3 separate regions of the Homo sapiens genome follow, and all the other regions are linked to region 2. Evidence: fine-mapped expression QTL. A gene starts in region 2. Each other region holds a variant in brackets. All regions are shown on one strand. Distances are from middle to middle. Region 1 overlaps KIN (Kin17 DNA and RNA binding protein). Region 2 holds the start of ITIH2 (inter-alpha-trypsin inhibitor heavy chain 2). Region 3 overlaps TAF3 (TATA-box binding protein associated factor 3).

What was found. PIP is the estimated chance that this variant, and not a neighbour inherited with it, causes the effect.
Region 1: its variant is fine-mapped to the expression of ITIH2 in sun-exposed skin (GTEx, PIP 0.91).
Region 3: its variant is fine-mapped to the expression of ITIH2 in subcutaneous fat (GTEx, PIP 0.97).

The regions. Positions count from the first base shown.
Region 1 is chr10:7,754,711-7,759,710 of GRCh38, forward strand. KIN (Kin17 DNA and RNA binding protein) reads right to left here. Exons shown (of 13, transcript NM_012311.4): 13 at 1-1,432. The coding sequence ends at 1,370. Among named protein-coding and RNA genes, the nearest start is that of KIN, 31 kb to the right of the region's middle. The variant A/G (reference allele first, on the strand shown) is at 3,007.
Region 2 is chr10:7,701,263-7,706,262 of GRCh38, forward strand. ITIH2 (inter-alpha-trypsin inhibitor heavy chain 2) reads left to right here and starts at 2,054. Exons shown (of 21, transcript NM_002216.3): 1 at 2,054-2,256; 2 at 3,846-3,920. The coding sequence starts at 2,173.
Region 3 is chr10:7,826,377-7,837,272 of GRCh38, forward strand. All of the region lies in intron 2 of TAF3 (TATA-box binding protein associated factor 3), which reads left to right. Among named protein-coding and RNA genes, the nearest start is that of TAF3, 13 kb to the left of the region's middle. The variant T/TG (reference allele first, on the strand shown) is at 8,953.

The DNA of each region.
Region 1 (5,000 bases), 53 kb after region 2:
AGAGTGCTCAAGAATGTAAATGTAGAGAGCCAGCACAGGAGCCAGAGACAGAGCGGAAGCCCAGGGAAGGCTGTTCACACCCGGTCCCGCTGCCCTGGAAGCTAGCGTCTGCTCCTTTCAGTCATGTGCACTACAAATATCCCTTCGTTTTTCCTTTGGCACAGGCAAATGTGGGTTTCCTGTCTTTTGCATTCCCTAATAATACACTGCCCTACTTATTTCAAACTGTATGGTTAGGCAGGGTGCTGTGGCTCACACCTGCAATCCTAGCACTTTGGGAGGCTGAGGCAGGAGGATCACTTGAGCCCAGGAGTTTGACAGCAGCCTGGGCAACACAGTGAGACCATGTCTCTAAAAGTAAAAAAATTAAAAACAAATAAAACTATAGTTCAACATTGCTGGTAGGACTGTAAAATGGTATAGCTGCTCTGGAAGAGTTTGGCAGAAGCGAAAGCTTCTGTTCACATAAAATCCTGTAAATGGGTGATCATGGCAGCATTATTCACAATAGCCAAAAAGTAGAAACAATCTAAATGTTTATCAGCTGATGAATGGACAAACAAAATACGGTACATCCATACAGTGGAATATTAAGCAGCCATAAAAACAAATGAAGCACGCCTACATGCTACTGCATGGATAAACCTTGAAAACATGATGCTAAGTGTAAGAAGCCAGTCATAAAAGATCACATATTATATGATTCCATTTATAAGAAATGTCCAGAAAGGGCAAATCCATAGAGACAGAAAGTACATTAGTGGCTGTCTAGGGCTAGGGCAGAGGGGAAAAATAGCGATTGACTATTAAAGGGTTTCATTTTGGGGTATGAAAGTGTTTTAAAATCAGACAGTGGTGATGGCTGCACAATTCTGCAAAAATACTAAAAACCACTGAATTGTATGTATATTTTAAATGAGTGAACTGTATGGTATATGAATTATTACCACAATAAAGCTGCTTCTATATTTATAGTTTGACATTTAAAATTTAGTCACACTTAGAGTTCAACTTTACTACTCTACTACTGAAAATATAGAGTGTATGAAGGATTTCCTCCAATTACATGATTCTAAATTGTCATAGATAAAACACTTTATAATAACATTCTTTAATGAAGATATAAACTCATCAAGTAAATTACAAAGGAAACAAAAATAACAAGGACAAAATTACATAGTTTGATACCTCATGAGACATAATTAAATTCTTCTCAAAGTTTAGCTGAACAACTATACAGTAATATTTTCAAAAACCTGTTTGTTTTATACAAAAGAATATACCCTAACACAGTAGAGTCTCATAATGCCTTGGCGAACACCAATTTGATGCTTTAAGATTTTAATGTATTGTTAACAAATTTTCAAACTCAGGCAAGTTTAGAAATGTCTTCATATTGAATTCCTTCAACTCTGCGTCCTTTTAAAGGGCCCTACAAATTAAAATAATTTAAAATAAGGTTAAAAACACATATTCCTAAAAGACAAAAAAATGACACCATACTTATGGATACAAATTTGCCTTTTCCGCATCCCTAAAATACCATTAAGATTGTTAACATTTGTATACATCTATGAATTTTAAGAATAATCTATGGCATTCTCATTAAGAACTACCATATTTTCTTCTGTGACATCTGACATACGTTATCAATAGACATTGTGGCAGAGACCTGCAAGCTGTTCAGTATCTCCTCTGCTTCCTGGATAAATAGCCAGTTTCCTGGCTCCCTTGTGGTTAGCTGTGGCCATGCATGGAGCTCCAGCCCATGAAAGCAAACAGAAGTGACGGTCCAGACGTGCTATAACTGACACACAATCTGCCAAGCTCCTTTTGCCTGCCCAGTGCACACAGACATGGCAACTGGAGATGCCACTTGAGGGCAGTAGAGGCACTAGCTGGAAGGACCCTGGGTTCACAAATCGCCACTTAGAAAGAGTTCCCTGATCAAAAATACCCATTTGGGGTTTTTAGAGTGAAACGTTAACTTCTACCATGTTTGTGCCATTGTCCATTTGGGGTTTTCTTTTTTTTATAGGAAATATCATTTTGTAAGCATTACGATACTCAAACATGTTTGTCTAGGTTGGCTGTGATAGTTACACTGGTCCAGATTATAAAAAGAGTCCAACTTTAACTTTATTTTCTTCTTTCATATCGAACAAAAAGGGAAAGAGGAAAACTTAATTAATGAAAGATATTTTCTATCACAAAAGCGGATATAACCTGGGAACACAGAGGCTAAGAATATGGGCTGTGAACCTACACTCCCCAAGTTCAAATCTCACTTTCAACAATTGATTTAACCTCTCTGTCCTTCAGTTTCCTCTCTGTGCCTTATTATCTCCCAGTGGAAATAATGGTAATGTCTGTATGATTGGGTTGTTGGGAAATATAAATGAGTTATTTCATATAAAGTGACTAGACCTGGAACTTAATATGAGTGAGAGCTCAATAATTTTCAACTCTAATTATTATTTAATCTTTTGTTTAAAATTTGAGAGTTGGGTCGGGCGCAGTGCTCACATCTGTAATCCCAGCACTTTGGGAGGCCGAGGCAGGTGGATCACCTGAGGTCAGGAGTTTGAGACCAGCCTGACCAACATAGTGAAACCCTATCTCTACTAAAAATATAAAAATTAGCTGGGCATGGTGGCACACACCTGTAATCCCAGCTACTTGGGAGGCTGGAGCAGAAGAATTTCTTGAACCCGGAGGCAGAGGTTGCAGTGAGCTGAGATCGCGCCATTGCACTCCAGCCTGGGCGACAGAGTGAGACTCTGTCTTGAAAATAAATAATAAAATAAAATAAAATTAAATTAAATAAAATTAAAATTAAATTTGACAGTTAATCCTCTCCCTTGCAAAATATAACATGATGATGATGACAATAATGATGATGACAATGATGATGACTCTAACCCTAGAACTGAGATTTTAACATTTTTTTACTGCTTCCCTTCACAACAAATAATTATCATATTTAAAGGAATTAAGTTCCCAGAT[A/G]AAGTATAACCTAGGTTAGATTTTTCATTATCATGTTTAATGGTCTATGGTCAATTACATTTTTCTGATAAGTACCATAAATCTGGAGAATAAGAAGGGAGCCAGACATTTGGGCTTATAGGGCAAATAGCTAAAAAGCTGAAGCTATTTAGGAACAATTTATTGGATGTTAAAAATCTGCTTGATATATGTATAAATTTCAAATATTATCAACGACATGAAAACTTAAGGTGCCAGAAATGATAAAAATAACCACTTGCAAAGCTCAAGTGATGACACAAGCATATACAGAGATTTTTTTTTTTTTTTTAATGAGGACAGGCTGAAGAAAGGAAGAAAAAAAAATTAGGAGACAGATTCCCTTTTTTTTTTTTTTTGAGACGGAGTCTCGCTGTCACCCAGGCCGGAGTAAGTGGCGCAATCTTGGCTCACTGCAATCTCTGCCTCCCAGGTTCAAGCGATTCTCCTGCCTCAGTCTCCCGAGCTGGGACTTCAGGCATTTGCCACCGCGCCCAGCTAATTTTTGTATTTTTAGTGGAGATGGGGTTTCTCCATGTTGGCCGGGCTGGTCTCGAACTCCTGACCTCAGGTGATTCGTCCGCCTCAGCCTCCCAAAGTGCTGGAATTACAGGCATGAGCCACCATGCCAAGCTGGTAGATTCCCTCTTCTAAAAGAAGTACATGTTGCTTTGCAATCAAACAGAAAGGCTTTTCATGTGGATTTGCTGCTAAGTTCTACCTCAGTACAGAAGATGAAACTGGGTCTACAGTGCAGAAGGTGAGAAATTAGTTTTTGATGAATGGACACAACCTGCGAACCAAAGGTATCGAGATGGAACTCAACACAGCCTCAACAGTAATCAGTTGTTTTGTGTTTCCCTGAGATGAAAACATGAAACAGGATCTGCATTTGATAGCACTATGAAATTAATAAGGTAAGTTTCATGCATGGTCCATGCAAAAAAAAAAAAAAAAGAAATTAATAAGGGAAGGATAAGCAAGTTGTCAAGGAAATACTGGATTTTCTACTGCCTTATGCTGATAGAGTCAGAGAAAATCTTATAGAGTTTTTTGTTAAAACTCAATCTGCTAATTTAGTCAGACTGACATGTTCCTCAATGCCAAGTAGGAGTCCTTTTTCCCTTTCTTCCCCTTAGTTTACGTTAGTAACAGTTAGCAAGTAACAGCTTCTAGGTTAGCATTGTCAGGATCAGAAAGAAAAAAAAAAAGGAGAAAAGCTTGATTTACTGAAATGAGAATTCTCTCAAATAAGGACCTAAATGGTTTTTCCAGAAAACCTTCCTAGACACATATTCTCTAACAGGTCCATGGGCTTAGGGGGCCTATAAACTCCCCAAGAGAACAAATAAAATTTGGCAATTATGTGCAATGTTTTGAAGAGTCTAAACTTTCATTAAACTCTCTAAGTGAGCTATTACTCCCAAGCTCCCCCAGAAATACTAAAACTGACTGTACTGGAGATAAAAAATTCTTTTGTTTAGCATCAAAGATATGCAGTGCAGTAGTTCAGAGTTCTAAAAGGAAACTTTCTTTCTGAAGATATCTCAGACCTCACTCACAGACCTGTGAGTGAAATATCAGTTCTAAGTCAATAACCAACTTTATTTATAAGTCAGAGTTCTTTAAATTACTGTATTGATCTCTGCTACCTTAAATCCTTTATGAAAAAAGGGGAGACATTTTAAAAAGTGGTTGACCTCTGTGGTTCCCTCCCTCTTGACAATGACTTTACTTCCCCCACTAACTTTACTATGCCAAATTGAGTTTTATATTCGATATGAGGGGAAAAAAGGATATAAAACTGTACCTATTACACACACTTTCATAAAACACCAAGATTGGAAAGGAACAGACCAAAATATTAATGGGGTTTATTGTTGGGCTGGGGGACTATGATTAATTTTTATAATTATTTATATTAAATTATGTTTTTTGGGGTTTTATGCATGAGTACACATTTCTTTTATAATCAG
Region 2 (5,000 bases):
GGAGGCTGAGGCAGGTGGATTACTCGAGGTCAGGAGTTTGAGACCAGCCTGACCAATATGGTGAAACCCCATCTTTACTTTAAAAAAAATAATACAAAGTTAGTTGTGGTGGTGCACGCCCGTAATTCCAGCTACTTGGGAGGTTCAGGCAGGGGAATCGCGTGAACCTGGGAGGTGGAGGTTGCAGTAAGCCAAGATCATGCCATTGCGCTTGAGTCTGAGCCACAGAGTGACGCTCCCTCTCAAAAAAAAAAAAAAAAAAGGACTTTGGGATCTGAAGACAGAGTATCAGCATGGAAAAAAGTCCAGCCTGCTTTTGGTTTGGTTTATTCTGAGATAATTCTGAATATCAGATTAAAATAATCAGAAAGGAAATGATCAATGGAAGGAGGTATGATTTTGAAAGTCACTGCTGTTTTTGGGAGAACATGCCATTGGGTTTTTTATTATTTATTTATTTTTTTCTTTTGAGACCAAGTCTTGCCCTGTTGCCCAGGTGGAATGCAGTGGCGTGATCTCAGCTCACTCTAACCTCCGCCTCCCCAGTTCAAGCAATTCTCATGCCTCAGCCTCCCAAGTAGCTGGGATTACAGGCGCATGCCACCACACCTGGCTAATTTTTGTATTTTTAGTAGAGACGGGGTTGCACTATGTTGGCCAGGCTGGTCTCAAACTCCTGACCTCAGGTCATCCACCCGCCTCAGTCTCCCAAAGTGCTGGGATTACAAGTGTGAGCCACCGCGCCCAGCTGCCATTGGGTCTTAATTCTCCAGAAACAGTATCTCAGTCAAGAATGCAAAGCTGTGGCAGGATTTTTCCATGAGGGGTCCACTGAGGCACTCACTGGCCAAGGTGGGCGCTCAACTAGTCCAACCTAGGCAAGGGAGGGGAGAATCTGTTTTCTCCCTTCCATTATTTCAGAAGTTATGTTTCTCCAGCAGACACACGGCTGTGCAATTTCGAAGACTGAGGGGAAACTAGGGAGGAAAATGCAGAAAACTCTCTGTTGCATGCCCTGTGAATTGGGCTTTAAATGTAGCAAGGAGCTCCAGGATCCCAGAAGTTGGCCTGGGGTGCTTGGTCCTGAGGATAAGACAACCTCCCTTGTATTGTAATTCTGCCCACAGCTGGAGCTTCCTATTTCAGTGTTGCATCCAAGAAGTTACATTTCCTGTTTGTTGCAAGAAAAATAGAATCTGACCAGGATGGAGGCTAGGCATGGGGGCTCACATCTGGAATCCCAGCAGTTTCGGAGGCTGAGGCAAGCAGATAGCTTGAGCCCAGGTGTTCAAGACCAGGATGAGCAACATGATGAAATCCCATCTCTACAAAAAATAGCCAGGCAGTGTAGTGCACACCTGTAGTCCAGCTACTCTGGAGGCTGAGGTGGGCAGATTGCTTGAGCCGGGGGAAGTTGAGGCTGCAATGAGCTTTGATCTCACCACTGCACTCCAATTCTGAGACTGGGGAGTATTGATTTGCCACTGACCTGAGCCCGGCTGATAGGGGCAGCAGGACAGACACTGTTACCTTAATCAAAGACATTCACGAAGCATTCTCACTGAAGATCTGCCCTAGTATCCTGCACAGCCACTTGCCTGGGTCTTTATAGGTAACAGGTAGACAGTCATCAAAGAGATAGGGGAAAACATGCACAATGAATTCTTTGCTCAGAAAAACCCTTCTGTGTCTTCTCCCACTTTTTCTAAATTTTTCCTGCTTTCATTTAGATCAAAGGATTTTGTTTCTTGGAATAGTTCTGCACTTGGTCCTTTAGAAAGGATGACAATTATCTGTAGGTCTCTCTGATTTTAAGATCAATAGAAATCAGCAAAAGCCAAAAAATAAAAAATAAAAATAAAATAAAAGCACACAAGCACATTCAAGCACATCCATCTGCCCCTGACTTGTCCTCACAGTAAGCAACTGCTTCTGACTTTGCTGTTTGAATAACCTCTGGGTGTTCGATCCACCCACACAGCTCAAGTTTGAGCTCCAGAACAAATATTTGTCCCAATTTTGAACAAAGTTAGAGAGTTTTTTCTTCTTTTTTCTTCTTTCTTAAAGCGAACTGTACTCCTCTGCTGTTCCTTTGAACTTGGTTCAGTAGGAAGAAGTGATATCCTCCCCAGACCATCTGCTTTGGGGAGCTTGGCAAAACTGTCCAGCAAAATGAAAAGACTCACGTGCTTTTTCATCTGCTTCTTTCTTTCTGAAGTATCAGGCTTCGAAATCCCCATAAATGGACTTTCTGAAGTAAGTACTTACAGATCACTCCTTGCTGTTGGCTTGTTCATGAGCTCAGTAAATCATCTATTGGAATCGCTATTCAATGGCCTTATTCTGTGTGTAATGGAAACTTAAGATAAAATTCATCTGAGTGCAAGTGTTTACTGTTATAATTACTGGAATGTATATTTACCTTTTAAAGCATTAACAGGTTTTGCATGAAAATTAAGTCAAGATCAATGGGCAGGCATCAGAGCGTAGCATTTATGGAGCAGAGCTGCTCACTCCTCACCTAAAAAATTGGGGGTAAGAATAGACCTAACCCAATGGTTTGCTTTGAGAATTAAATGACACAGTGTAAACTCTTCTAGCAGAGCGCCTGGACTAGTAAGTGCTTAATAATTACTAGCTGTTATGATGATGAAGAAATATTATCACTCTTTTACTAAGAGTATAAGAAAAGTCATTATCAAAGCACACTGTTTTTCATATCTAAGTGAACAGTGATATTTGTAATAAGAGCACTTTAAGTATTCCTATTAAAGCGGAAGATAGCAGGCAGGGTGGAAAAGTACAAGAATAATTCCCATGGAGTACAGGTCTCCACTTTTGTCCCTTAGCCATCTCCAATGTAAGGAAAGTCTTGGACTGAAAGTCTGTTTCTGAAAGTCATACAAGAGCTATTTTTATGCCAGAAAAGCGAAGCATGTTATGGGAACATCCCAGCAAATGCAAAGGCTTATAATACTTGCAGAGTGGATTACCTATAAAAATGCCAGAGAATATGACGGCATATTTACAAAGGGAAAATATCACTCTGTCTGCTTTGAAACTATCATATTTTCCAACACTTAAAAGCCACCAGAGTGTGTTAGAAATCTCAAATTGAAGCCAAGACATCCAAATGTGTTTGTGCTTTTTCAGTCATTTCTAACTGGCATTTCCTTTTAGAAAATACCTACATTTTTAACTTGGGGAGATGTATGGTTCATGTCTGTCCAGTCAGACACTGCAAATGCCTCCAGGGTCTACCCAGATACTTCCCCAGACACCCACCTAATCACTGGGTTGTTTTGATCTCTGTCTTACCACCTGCTGGCAAACTCAAAAATGAATTCCCATGTCCAACAAATGCGAAGGTGTTGTTACCCTCCATTTGGACACCTCTGAGACGTAACCAGCAAATAGAAATATACTAAAGAAATCATTTTATACAAAATTGTGATTGCCCAGAGGTAGAGGAAAGAATATAAAATAATGAATACCAACAGCTATCTCTTTGGCTCTAGATCTTTTGGAAATCATCATTCTCAGCAAAGTAACACAAGAAGGGAAAACCCAACACCGCATGTTCTCACTCATAAGTGGGAGTCGAACAACGAGAACACATGGACACAGGAAGGGGAACATCACACACTGGGGCCTGTCAGGGGGTGGGGGGCTAGGGGAGGGATAGCATTAGGAGAAATACCTGACGTAAATGATGAGTTAATGGGTGTAGCAAACCAACATGGCACATGTATACCTATGTAACAAATCTGCACGTTGTGCACATGTACCCCAGAACTTACAGTATAATTAAAAAAAAAAAAGTTAAAATCCTAATTTTTTTTAAGTTTGTAGACTATGAAGATCTTGTGGAACTGGCCCCAGGCAAATTTCAATTGGTGGCAGAGAACCGGAGATATCAGGTATAGTAAGGTTTACTCCCAAAAGGGGGAAAAAAAGTGAAAGAGATTATGGCAGAAGAAGACAAGTGTTAAGATGCCTTCTGCTAGATTTTCTTAAGAGTTTGTTTTTTAGCACAGAAGAGTCCAGACTTCTTACACCTTGGTGGAAGAGATCACCCAGGTGAAATAAAAAGAGAAACTCACACAACTGCTCAGCAGCCTTCACACCATAATGCTCAATTTAGTCCCTTAAAGAGTACACGACTCAGCACAGTGGCTCCCACTTATAATCACAGCATTTTCAGAGGCCAAGGAGGGAGGATCACTTGAGGCCAGGAGTTCCAGATCAGCCTGGGTAACATAGTGAGGCTCTACCTCTGCCACCCAGCTAATATATATATTAGCTGGCATGCACCTGTAATCCCAGCTATTTGAGAAGCTGAGATGGAGGATCACTTGAACCCAAGAGTTCGAGGCTGCAGTGAGCTATGATTGCACCAGCCTGGGCAACAGAGGGAGACGCTGTCCCCACTCCATTTAAAAAAAAAAAAAAAAAAAAGAATACATGGCTATGTGTTTTCTTCAAAACTTAAGATTCCGAAATTATTTCCTGCCTTGCCGGAAGGATTTCCTGTTAGGAAGACTTTTCTTATTTTAGCGATGACAGACACTCCCCCTTGCAGCCTCACAATCTCCTTCCTCTGGTCACTCTGAGGGCACCTGAGAAGGAGAATTGGCCACATTGGAAGTTGCAATCCTGGCGGCCACCAGCAGCAGTATAGACAAAACCCTCTAATTAAGGGGGTGAGTTTTCCAGAACACCAGGAAGGGCTTGGCTTCTTCCCCACGGAGCCCACATGCTGAGAGAGGAGGTATTTACGGAAGCAGCAACCCTAAGCTGATCAATGTCTTATTTTGTATGGGTGTGAATTTTTTACTTTCTGAAAATCCAGGATTTTTTTTTGTAGACTAATAATATTAAAATCCAATAAGCAAGACTTCATGTCACAATTTATTTAGCCACAAGAGAGAAAAATTTGTCATTGAGCATTGCATTCAAGAAGTCTACAAGAAGAGGTCAACCATTGACCTCACCATGTC
Region 3 (10,896 bases), 130 kb after region 2:
GGAAATGTAACTAAGATAACAGGTTTAGATTAGGTAGTGAAGAAGTATGAAAAACAATTTAGTGTTTTTTTTGTTTTGTTTTGTGTTGTTTTGATACTGACTTCTGGCTGAAATTACTATATTACTATAGATTTTTGGGTTTCTTTTCTGGGTTATTTGAAGCAAAAAAAGAAACTCATTTAGTTTTATGCAAACAATATAAATTATAAACATTTTAAAAGGAAAATAACAAATCTTGAGAACACTACTTTTCACTTTTTATCTAACACATGTGGATTAAGAAGGAAAAATATTGCTGATTTGTAATATATGCATATGGTTTATAAGGATGCAGTAAGTGGTAGGCAGTACAGTAAGATGCTTGTCAAAACGTTCTCCTCTTCATAAGAAAAGGATATAAAATGCAATTCTTTGGTTACCATTTAAAAATATAACCATACAAGACCATTTCTTGTCATTTACAATCTGAAATATTTTTTTTTCATGGGTACAGCATGTTAGAAAGTTCCTGGTATTCTGATTAGTGGTGCAAAGTGAGGTACAGAGGTGAACCCCTTTGATAATGATGCTGTTCACCATGCTCTTTATTTTCCTTTTATTTCCTTAAGAGCCACAGACAGGCCAGACTTTGGTCTTAAAATATTATTAGCAAGGTCCTTCCATGGGGTTCCCTCTTATCAGCCACTCAGCTTGGTTCATGTCAAAAAAGCCTGTGAAAGTCTCCCTCCACAGCAGCTGGAGCTGGCGAGTGTGCACACATAGAAGGCCTGAAGGGGCAGCAGGCTGTGAGAGGCACAGCGTGGACCTCACGGCATCACTGAGACATGACTCAGCGAGTCACTGAGTTTCTGGTCTTCCCAAGTCACTTTACCTTTCTGAACTTTATATTCATCTGTAAAATAAGTGTAATAACACCTACCACATTGGGGAAATGGAGAATCAAGTAATTTTTTTTTGTTAACACATTTATATAAAATTGGACAGTGTTTAACATATAAAATACATAACAGTGGGCCAGGTGTGATGGCTTATGCACTTTGGGAGGCTGAAGCTTGAGCCCAGGAGTTTGATACCAGCCTGGGCAACGTCATGAGACCTCATCTCTACTAAAAATAAAAAACTTGGCTGGGCGCAGTGGCTCACGCCTGTAATCCCAGCACTTTGGGAGGCGGAGACGGGCGGATCACGAGGTCAGGAGATCGAGACCATCCTGGCTAACACAGTGAAACCCCGTCTCTACTAAAGATACAAATATTAGCTGGGCGTGGTGGCGGGTGCCTGTAGTCCCAGCTACTCGGGAGGCTGAGGCAGGAGAATGGCGTGAACAGAGGAGGTGGAGCTTGCAGTGAGCCGAGATTGTGCCACTGTACTCCAGCCTGGGTGACGGAGCGAGACTCTGTCTCAAAAAAAAAAAAAAAAACAAAAACAAAAACTTAGCTGGGCATGGTGGTGCACGCTTGTAGTCCCAGCTATCAGAGTCTGTGGTGGGAGGATCAGTTGAGCCCAGGGGTCAAGGCTGCAGTGAGCTATGATCACACCACAGCACTCCAGCCTGAGTGACAGCGAGACCCTGTCTCAAAAAAAAATAAAACACATGACAGCGAATATTAGTTCTCGTCCCCTTTTTCTTTTCTTGCTCTTAAATAATTTACTTTTGAATTGAAATACAATATACATTAGTGAAGTCACGCTATAAGGGGAATCGGTGTCAAGCTGCATTCAGTGGCACACCCATAGTCCTAGCTACTTGGAAGGCCAAGGCAGGAAGATCGCTTGAGCCCAGGAGTTTGAGGCTGTAGTGCGCAATGATTGAGCCTGTGAATGCCCACTGCACTTCAGCCTGGGCAACATAGCAGGACCCTGTCTCTGAAAAAAAGAGACGAATCAATGTAAAGTAGTGTTACCATCACGTGCTGAGGATCTGAGGGAACAGACTTACTAGCTGGGCTGGATAGGTACTTGACTGAGGAGCTGTGTGATTATCCGCAGTGTGAAGATGACAGATGAGGAGATGATGTGGAAGGAGTTATTGCCTGCTTTATCTGATTATATGTTTAGAAGTGAGACCTCTTTGAAAATATTTTATACATGCATATTTTTGCTTGGACTGTTACAGTTCTGATGGCTGGTACCCAGTGTGTTTTATCCAAGAACATTCTCTCCCCAGCTTGCCATACATATTTTCAGATTCACACCAATACCATATTTTTTTGCTTCCTATTTTATTGTGCTGAGGAATGTCTGAAAATAGTACAGCGTACTATGCCAAAGTCATTGTTGGTTCTCACAGTGTGGTCTCTAGATCACTGGTCAATGGGGGTCTTCTGGGGGGGTCTGTTGATTGGTTCAAAATATTTGCATAAGAAAGAAATATAGGCTGGGCGCAGTGGCTCACACCTGTAATCCCAGCACTTTGGGAGGCCGAGGTGGGCGGATCACTTGAGGTCAGGAGTTCAAGACGAGCCTGGCCAACATGGTGAAACCCTGCCTCTACTGAAAATACAAAAATTAGCTGGGTGTGGTGGTGCCTGTAGTCCCAGCTACTCGGGAGGCTGAGATGGGAGAATCACTTGAATCCGGGAGGCAGAGGTTGCAGTCAGCCGAGATCGTGCCACTGCACTCCAGCCTGGGTGACAGAGTGAGACTCCGTCTCAAAAAAAAAAAAAAAAAAAAAAAAAAAAGGAATATAAACCATGTACCCTGACTTATTGCAGGAAACTTACCAAGCTCAACTTAAACTTGGTAAAGATACTGTGAGGTTGCCACTTTTAGAGTTTCTATTTTTTAAAATTTAAAATAGACTATTTTTTAGAACAGTTTTGATTTACAGAAAAAATTGAGAAGTTAGTTTGGAGAGTTCACTCACATCTGAACCATTTCTTCTGTTATTAACCTTTTACGTGACTATGGTACGTGTATCACAATTAATGAACAATATTGACATGTTATTATTAAGTGACGCCCGCACTGTATTGACATTCCTTAGTTTTTACTGGATGTCCTTTTTCTGTTTCTGGATCCCATCCAGGATATCATATTGTGTTTGGTTGTCACGTCTCCTTAGACTTTTCTTGGCTGTGACAGTTTTTCAGACTTTTCTTGTTTTTGACGACCTTGACAGTTTTGAGGATTATTGGTTAGGTATATTGTCGGATGCCCCTCTAGTGGAATTTTTCTGATGTTTTCCTCATGATTAGACTGGGGTTATGAGATCTTGGGGAGAAAGACCACAGAGGTCAAGGGCCATTTTTATGACATCATATCAAAGGTCTATCCTGTCATCATAATTTATCACTGTTGATATTGATGGTGATCACATGGCTGGGGTAGTGTTTATCTGGTTTCTTCACAGTAAAGTTTCTCTTCTATCCCCTCTTCCCCTACTGTGCTCTTTGGAAAGAAGTCACTGTGCGTAGCCCGCCCTTAAGGAATGGGAGTTATGCGTCCCGCTTTGAAGGTGGAATATCTGCATATGTTGTTAGGAACTCTTCTGCATGGGGATTTCTCTCTTTCCCCACTAAGATTTCTATTTTTATTATTAAACCCTTTAAAAGTAAACATTTACATGTTTGAAAAAATTAACAAAAGTAATACAAACTTGCTGAAAAAATATATTGCCAAGTGAATTCGTTATGAAATGGAAGTGTCTCTTCACTTCCCTTCCTCCCCCTTCCCAAGAATAACCTAGTTGGCAGATGGGGCTCCTCTGCATCTTCCCGTGTGACCTTTTGCACTCCTTGGACTCAAGAATCTATGTCCACTTCAGTACCTGCCATTTCTTTCTCAAGCTCCTGCCATCCTTTTCTTGAAGCAGTTCTTGCTGTGAACACCAATTACTATCTAAATGGTTGATCTGAAGGAAATTTAAACCCTTTCTCCCAGTTCAAGAAACAGAACTTTACCAGCTATCTCAGAATAGCTTCTATGTGCCCAACCCCACCCCACCCCTTCCTCCCTCCCTCCAAAAATAACCAACCACTGTCCTGACTTTGTAGGAATTACTCCTTAGCTTTATAGTTTTATCAGCCAAATGCGTATCCCTAGACACATTAATTTAATGTTCTTCACACATGCACACCTTTTTCACTTTACATGTCTTTTTTTTTTTTTTTTTTTTTTTTTTTTGAGAAGGAGTCTTGCTCTGTCACCCAGGCTGGAGTGCAGTGGCGCAATCTCGGCTCACTGCAAACTCCACCTCCTGGGTTCAAGCGATTCTCCTGCCTCAGCCTCCCGAGTAGCTGCAATTACAGGTGCATGCCACTGTGGCTGGCTAATTTTTGTATTTTTAGTAGAGACGGGGTTTCACCATGTTGGCCAGGCTGGTCTGGAACTCCTGACCTCAAGTGATCCGCCAGCCTCGGCCTCCCAAAGTGCTGGGATTCCAGGCGTGAGCCACCCCGCCCAACCATGTCATTTACCTTTTAGTTTGTGACTCTCCTTCCATTCCTTTCTTTGTCTTACAGTTTATTTGTTAGAAATCTGGGTTGTTTGATCTGCAGAGTGCCCCACAGTTGGATGTTGCGCATTGTGCACTCATAATGCAGCTCAATGTGTTTCTCAAAATTGGCAGCAAGAATCTGAGGCTTGACCAGATTTAGGTTTGGCAAGATATCAGCTGATGATGTCCAGTTTTCACTTTTGTTGGTGTTAGCAGTGCTGATGCTCAGTGCCTAGATCCATTAATTCATTAGGGGTTACAAAGTAATGATAATACTATCACTTTGTTTTTATTTCATTCTTTAGTTGAAATAACTTTATAAGAAAATCCTTTTCCTCATCCACTATTTAGTAACTTAATGGCATAGTTTATATAGGGAAAGCAGGGTTAACGCTTGATTTTTTTCATATGGTATATTCCCAGTTTTCATGAGAATAAATTGGTTCCTTGTTATCCTTAGCAGGTGACTAGTTTCATTTAATACTCTATCATTGTGAACTCACAGATTTAAACATACTTGACGGATTTCATTCATTACTTTTTTTTTTTGAGATGGAGTCTCACTCCATCGCCGAGGCTGGAGTGCAGTGGCTCAATCTTGGCTCACTGCAACCTCTGCCTCCCAGGTTCAAGGGATTCTCCTGCCTCAGCCTCTCCAGTAGCTGGGATTACAGGCATGTGCCACCACGCCCGGCTAATTTTTGTATTTTTAGTAGAGGCGAGGTTTCACCATGTTGGCCAGGCTGGTCTTGATCTCCTGATCTTGTGATCCTCCTGCCTCGGCCTCCCAAAGTGCTGGGATTACAGGAGTGAGCTACCGTGCCCGGCCTCATTACAGTTTTTTACCCATATTGTAGCTTTAATTGTTGCATCTTTGGCCAGTGGCAGCTTCTTCACTCTTGCTTCTGAGTCCTTTTGACACATGACCCGAATTGGCTTTGGTGACGTCCTCACCTTCTGGTATATCAAAATGTTCTAGACTCAGCATGTATAGTCATGTTCTATGCTTGGTATAAATTATCTGTCCAGGAAACCCTGGTTTCTTGGAAAGTAGTATTTCTTTTCTTTTTTTAATTTTAATTTTTTTTAATTATAAAATTTCAGGTTACATTTGTATATATCTGGGGGGTGCAAAGCGATGTTATGTTTTATAAATACAATGTGGAATAATTAAGTCAAGCTAGTTAACATACCTGTCACCTCAAATGCCTATCGTTTTTTGTGGAGAGAACATTTAAAACTTACTCTCTTAATGATTTTCAAATGTGTAATACATTATTATTTTTCTTTTTCACCATGCTGTGCAATGTATCAAAAAAAGTACTCCTCCTGTCAGATTGAGGCTTTGTACCCTTTGCCTATCATCTCTGTATCCCCACATCCCCACATCCCCTGCCCCAGCCTCTGTAACCACTGTTCTACTCTCTGCTTCTTGGAATTTGGTTCTTTTCGTCCACATATAAGTGAGAACATGTGGTATGTCTCCTTCTGTGCCTGGCTTACTTCACTTAGCAGAATTGTTTGAATTCCATCTATGTTGTCACAAATGACAAAATTTCCTTCTTTTTTTAAAGGCTGAATAATAATACTTTTTAATTTTTATGGGTACACAGTAAGTATAAATATTTATGGAGTACATAAGAATTTTAATAAAAGCACACCACAATGTGTAGTAATTACATCAGACTAAATTGGATATTTACCACCTGAAGCATTTATCATTTCTTTCTTATTTATTTATTTATTTTTGAGACAGTCTCGCACTGTCACCCAGGCTGGAGTGCAGTGGTGTGATCTCAGCTCACTGCAAGCTCCATCTCCTAGGTTCAAGTTTAAGTGATTCTTGTGCCCCACCCTCCCCAGTAGTTGGGATTACAGGTGCCCACCACCACACCCGGCTAATTTTTGTGTTTTTAGTAGAGATGCGATTTCACCATGTTGGCCAGGCTGGTCTGAAACCCCTGGCCTCAAGTGATCTGCCCACCTCAGCCTCCCAAAGTGCTGGGATTACAGGCATGAGCCACTGCACCTGGCCCAGCATTTATCATTTCTTTGTGCTACAGATATTCCAGTTATACTCTTTTAGTTATTTTTAAATGTACAGGGTGCAGTAGCTCACACTTGTAATCTTGTCACTTTGGGAGTCTGAGGCAGGAGGATGATTTGAGGCCAGGAGTTCGAGATAAAATGTTCAATAAATTATTGTTGACTTTAGTCACCCTGTGGTGCTATTAAAGGCTGAATAGTATTCTGTGGTGTATATATATTACATTTTCTTTATCCACTCATCTGTTAATGGACACTTAGGTTATTTCTGTAACTTGGCTATTGGGAACAGTGCTGCAGTGAACTTGGGAGAGCAGAATCTCTTCCACATAATCTTTTCAAATCTTTTGGGTAAATACTCAGGAGTGGGGTTGCTGGATTATATGGTAATTCTATTTTGAGTTTTTGGAGGAAACTCCACATAGTTTTCCATGACTACTAATCTAAATTCCCACCAACAGTGTACAAGGATTCCCCCTTTTCTCCACATCCCTGCTAACACTTGTTACCTTTCATCTTTTTTATAGCAGCCATTCTAACAGGTGTGAGGTAATATCTCACTGTGGTTTTATTTCTGTAATGATTAGTAATGTTGAACATTTTTTCATGTATTTGTTGGCAGTTTGTATGTCTTATTTTGAGGAATGTCTATTCATTTTTTATTGGATTATTTCTTTCTGTAGGGTTTTCTTTTTTCCTTTTTTGGGGACCCAGCAATACTGCTGATTTATTACAAGTCCCCAAGAGGGCTTCAGTTTTTCTTTTCAACATCCTGTTCTGTAGCTTCCATGTCTCTTTTTGTCCATATGTGGAGGAGCCAGGCATTGGCACGGGCCATGCAGCAACTAGCAAAGGCTCTGAAATTCTTCTCCTCAGTGGTGACTTGAGCTTTCTCCTTCTCATAGACATTCTGGATGGGCATGACTGGTCCTGTCAGCTGGGTGGCCAATTGCAGTTCTTCAGCAGAACTGTCTCCCTTCCTGGGGACCGAGGGCTTCCTGGGGAAGAGGATGAGTTTGGAGCGGTACCCCTTCAGCCGCTGCACAGTGCGTGTGGAAGTGGGGCTTCAAGATCTTGCCATTCCCGCTGGGCACCATGGCTGCCTGCTGTCCTCCGGCACAGGACAACAGCCAGACTGTTCTTTCTATAGAGTTGTTTGGGTTCCTTATATATTTTGCCTTTTTTTTTGGTGGTGGTTGTGGCTCTTGTTGTTGTTGAGTTGCTTACATGTTTTGGGCGTGAGCCCCTTGTCAGATGTGTGGGTGCACGTGTTTTCCTCCTCACCCACAGGTTGTGCCTTCACTCTGCTGTTTCCTTTATTGTGCCAAAGCTTTTTATTTTGATGGAATCCCATTTGTTCAGTTTTGCTTTTGTCACCCTGCGCTTTTGGGGCCAAATATAAAAAATAATTGCCCAGACCAGTGTCTTACAGTTTTTCCCCTATGTTTTCTTTTAGCAGTTTTGTAGTTTCAAGTCTTACATTTAGGTCTTTATTCCATTTTGAGTTGATTTTTCTAAGTGGTATGAGATAAGGATCCAATTTCATTCTTCTGCATATGGATATCCAGTTGTCTCCACGCTGGGAAATAGCATTTCAAGTACACAGTCTCGGTGCTAAGGGATACTTATTATATATAACTCGGTTGTTCATTGTTTCTAGGCAATAAGTAAATAAATATTTATATACATGTAGATGTGTGTGAATAGATAGATAGGTGGATAGGGTTCCTCCTGAGTTCATGCAGATTTTCCAATTCATATTTAGGACTACAAGGTTTTTATTTTTTATGTTACATCCATAAATACTGTCATCCATACTGAGAATTCTGGTTCTCAGGAATAAAGAAGATGATAAAATTAGAATATTCCATAATTATTCATTTGCTTTATCCCAGATTACACGTACAATATTGCAACTGATACTATCATTCATGATTACTGAAACAGGTAAAAAAAATTTTTTTTGCTCATTCTGTCCTATGAAACCAATTTTCTTTCATTTTACCGTGTGTATCTTGTCAGATCATATAGCTACTGTCTTGAGTTCTGCTACCTAATTTCTGAGTTTTTTCTGATTTTGATTTATATACTTTCATGTCTTTTAGATCATTTCAAGATAGAACATTATAGGTTCATCAGTTTTTTCGAGTGTGTGTTTCTCTCGTACTTTCATTGTCTGGAGGGATGTTTTGCTATTTAGTCTTCTCTTCTTTATAGAAACTATATGTGAGTTAGTTTTCTGAGCCTTTAGAACACAGGTGTCCAATCTTTTGGCTTCCCTGGGTCACACTGGAAGAAGAAGGATTGTCTTTGGCCACACATAAAATACACTAACACCATCGATAGCTGCTGAGCTAGAAAAAAAAGTCACACACAAAAAAGTCATAATGTTTTAAGAAAGTTTACAACTTTGTGTTGGGCTGCATTCAAAGCCGTCCTGGGCCGCATATGGCCCATGGGCTGTGGGT[T/TG]GACAAGCTTGCTTTAGAAGGAGATTCAGGGTAGCTCCTCTGACTTTGCAGTGCTCCCTCTTCTATCGTTTTTGCGGAATGTTCCAAATATGGGAACTTGCTCACTGAGATTTTTTGTTTGTTTTCCTCCACCACTTTTACCTGGATCTTCTCTTCCCTTCATGTCAGTTTTCCTTTTTCTGGCCAGCTGTGATTCCACTGCCAGCTGTGTCCTCTCAGCGAGGCTCTGTCCTGGCAGAGAGCAGCCAGGGTCAAGTCTGAGAGCTCCTGGGCTCAACTTCTAGCCCCATTGGATCTCACTCAGCCCCTTGTACTCCCTGTACTGGAAGTGGTCCCATCCTTCCCAGCCTCAGCCGCTCTTCTCGGGTTGGCCTGCCGGGCTTTCCAGCAGAGGCCTGGTGGCCCTTTTGGGGTTTTCCTGTTTCAGGTCAGTCTTCCCGTTGCTTCTCACTGTTTCCCTTGCATAGATGCCTCATACTCGGGTCTCATGGCGCTTGGTGGCATGTTGTCACCTGCATGTATTTTGGCACTGATGGGTGTACTCTGTCACCTGGTTATGTTGGGAAGATGCACAAACTACCTTGCCCCAGCTACCACTTTCTTCCCAGGATTCCCCTTATTGAAGCTTTTTGCTGCTTTCATCACTGTTGGGCAATTCCTGAAGCTGCTTTTCTTCAGCGCCATCATACTCCCTTAACTCTCCTTATATGATGAGCTCCATCTTGGGGCCTTTCTTGGGCACGTCTTCCCTGGCTCTCCTACTGCTAAAACATTGGTGCTTCTAAAATTTTATCCTTCACCTACTATGTTTCTCACGTTACTTAGTTTCAGAGTTGACTTTCCTACTCTCATAGTTTGAACCCCCATCTGTATGCTGATGCCTCCCCAAACTGTCCCTCTACATCCACCTCTCAGACCCTGCAACCAGTTGCAGTTGGCCATTTCCACGTTTTCTTTTTTCTTTCTTTTTTTTTTTTTTGAGACGGAGTTTCGCTCTTGTTGCCCAGGCTGGAGTACAATGGCACAACCTCCGGCTCCCTGGTTCAAGTGATTCTCCTGTCTCAGCCTCCCGAGTACCTGGGATTAGAGGCATGAGCTACCAAGCCCAGCTAATTTTGTATTTTCAGTAGAGACGGGGTTTCTCCATGTTGGTCAAACTGGTCTTGAACTCCCGACCTTGGGTGATCTGCCCACCTTGGCCTCCCAAAGTGCTGGGATTACAGGCGTGAGCCACTGCACCCGGCCCATTTCCACATTTTCTTACCACGAATACACCTGTGTTATCCATCTCAGTTGGTGGCACCATCTCTACTCAGTCACCTAAGCTAGAAACATGAGAATTAGCATTGACCTCTTCTCTCATTCTCCTTCATTCCCTATCTCTAATTCTGCTAATTTTCTTTCTTAAAAAATTTCCAAAATATTATTGCATCACTTCCTTTGTTTAAACCTTTATCTCTTGTCTGAACTGTCCTTATCCTCTAAACGAAACTATTAGACAAAAAATTAACACATCCCACATTATAAAACACTTTGTTGGCTCTCCAACTGCTTACAGTTACCAAAAATACCTATGGAGAGGAGTTTTCTTTTTTGCATCAAAATGAAAAGAGCTTTGGTTGAGTGTGATGGCTCATGCCTATAATCCCAGCACTTGGGAGGCCAAGGCAGGAGGATCGTTTGAGCCCAGGAATTTGAGACCAGCCTGGACAACATAGTGAGACCTTGTTTCTATAAAAAATTTAAAAATCTGGCCAGGCGTGGTGGCTCACACCTGTGATCCCAGCACTTTGGGAGGCCAAGGTGGGCAAATTGCTTGAAGTCAGGAGTTCAAGACCAGCCTGGCCAACAGGGTGAAATCCTGTCTCTACTAAAAATACAAAATTTAGCTGGACATGGTGGCATGGGCCTGTAGTCCCAGCTACTCGGGAGGCTGAGGCAGGA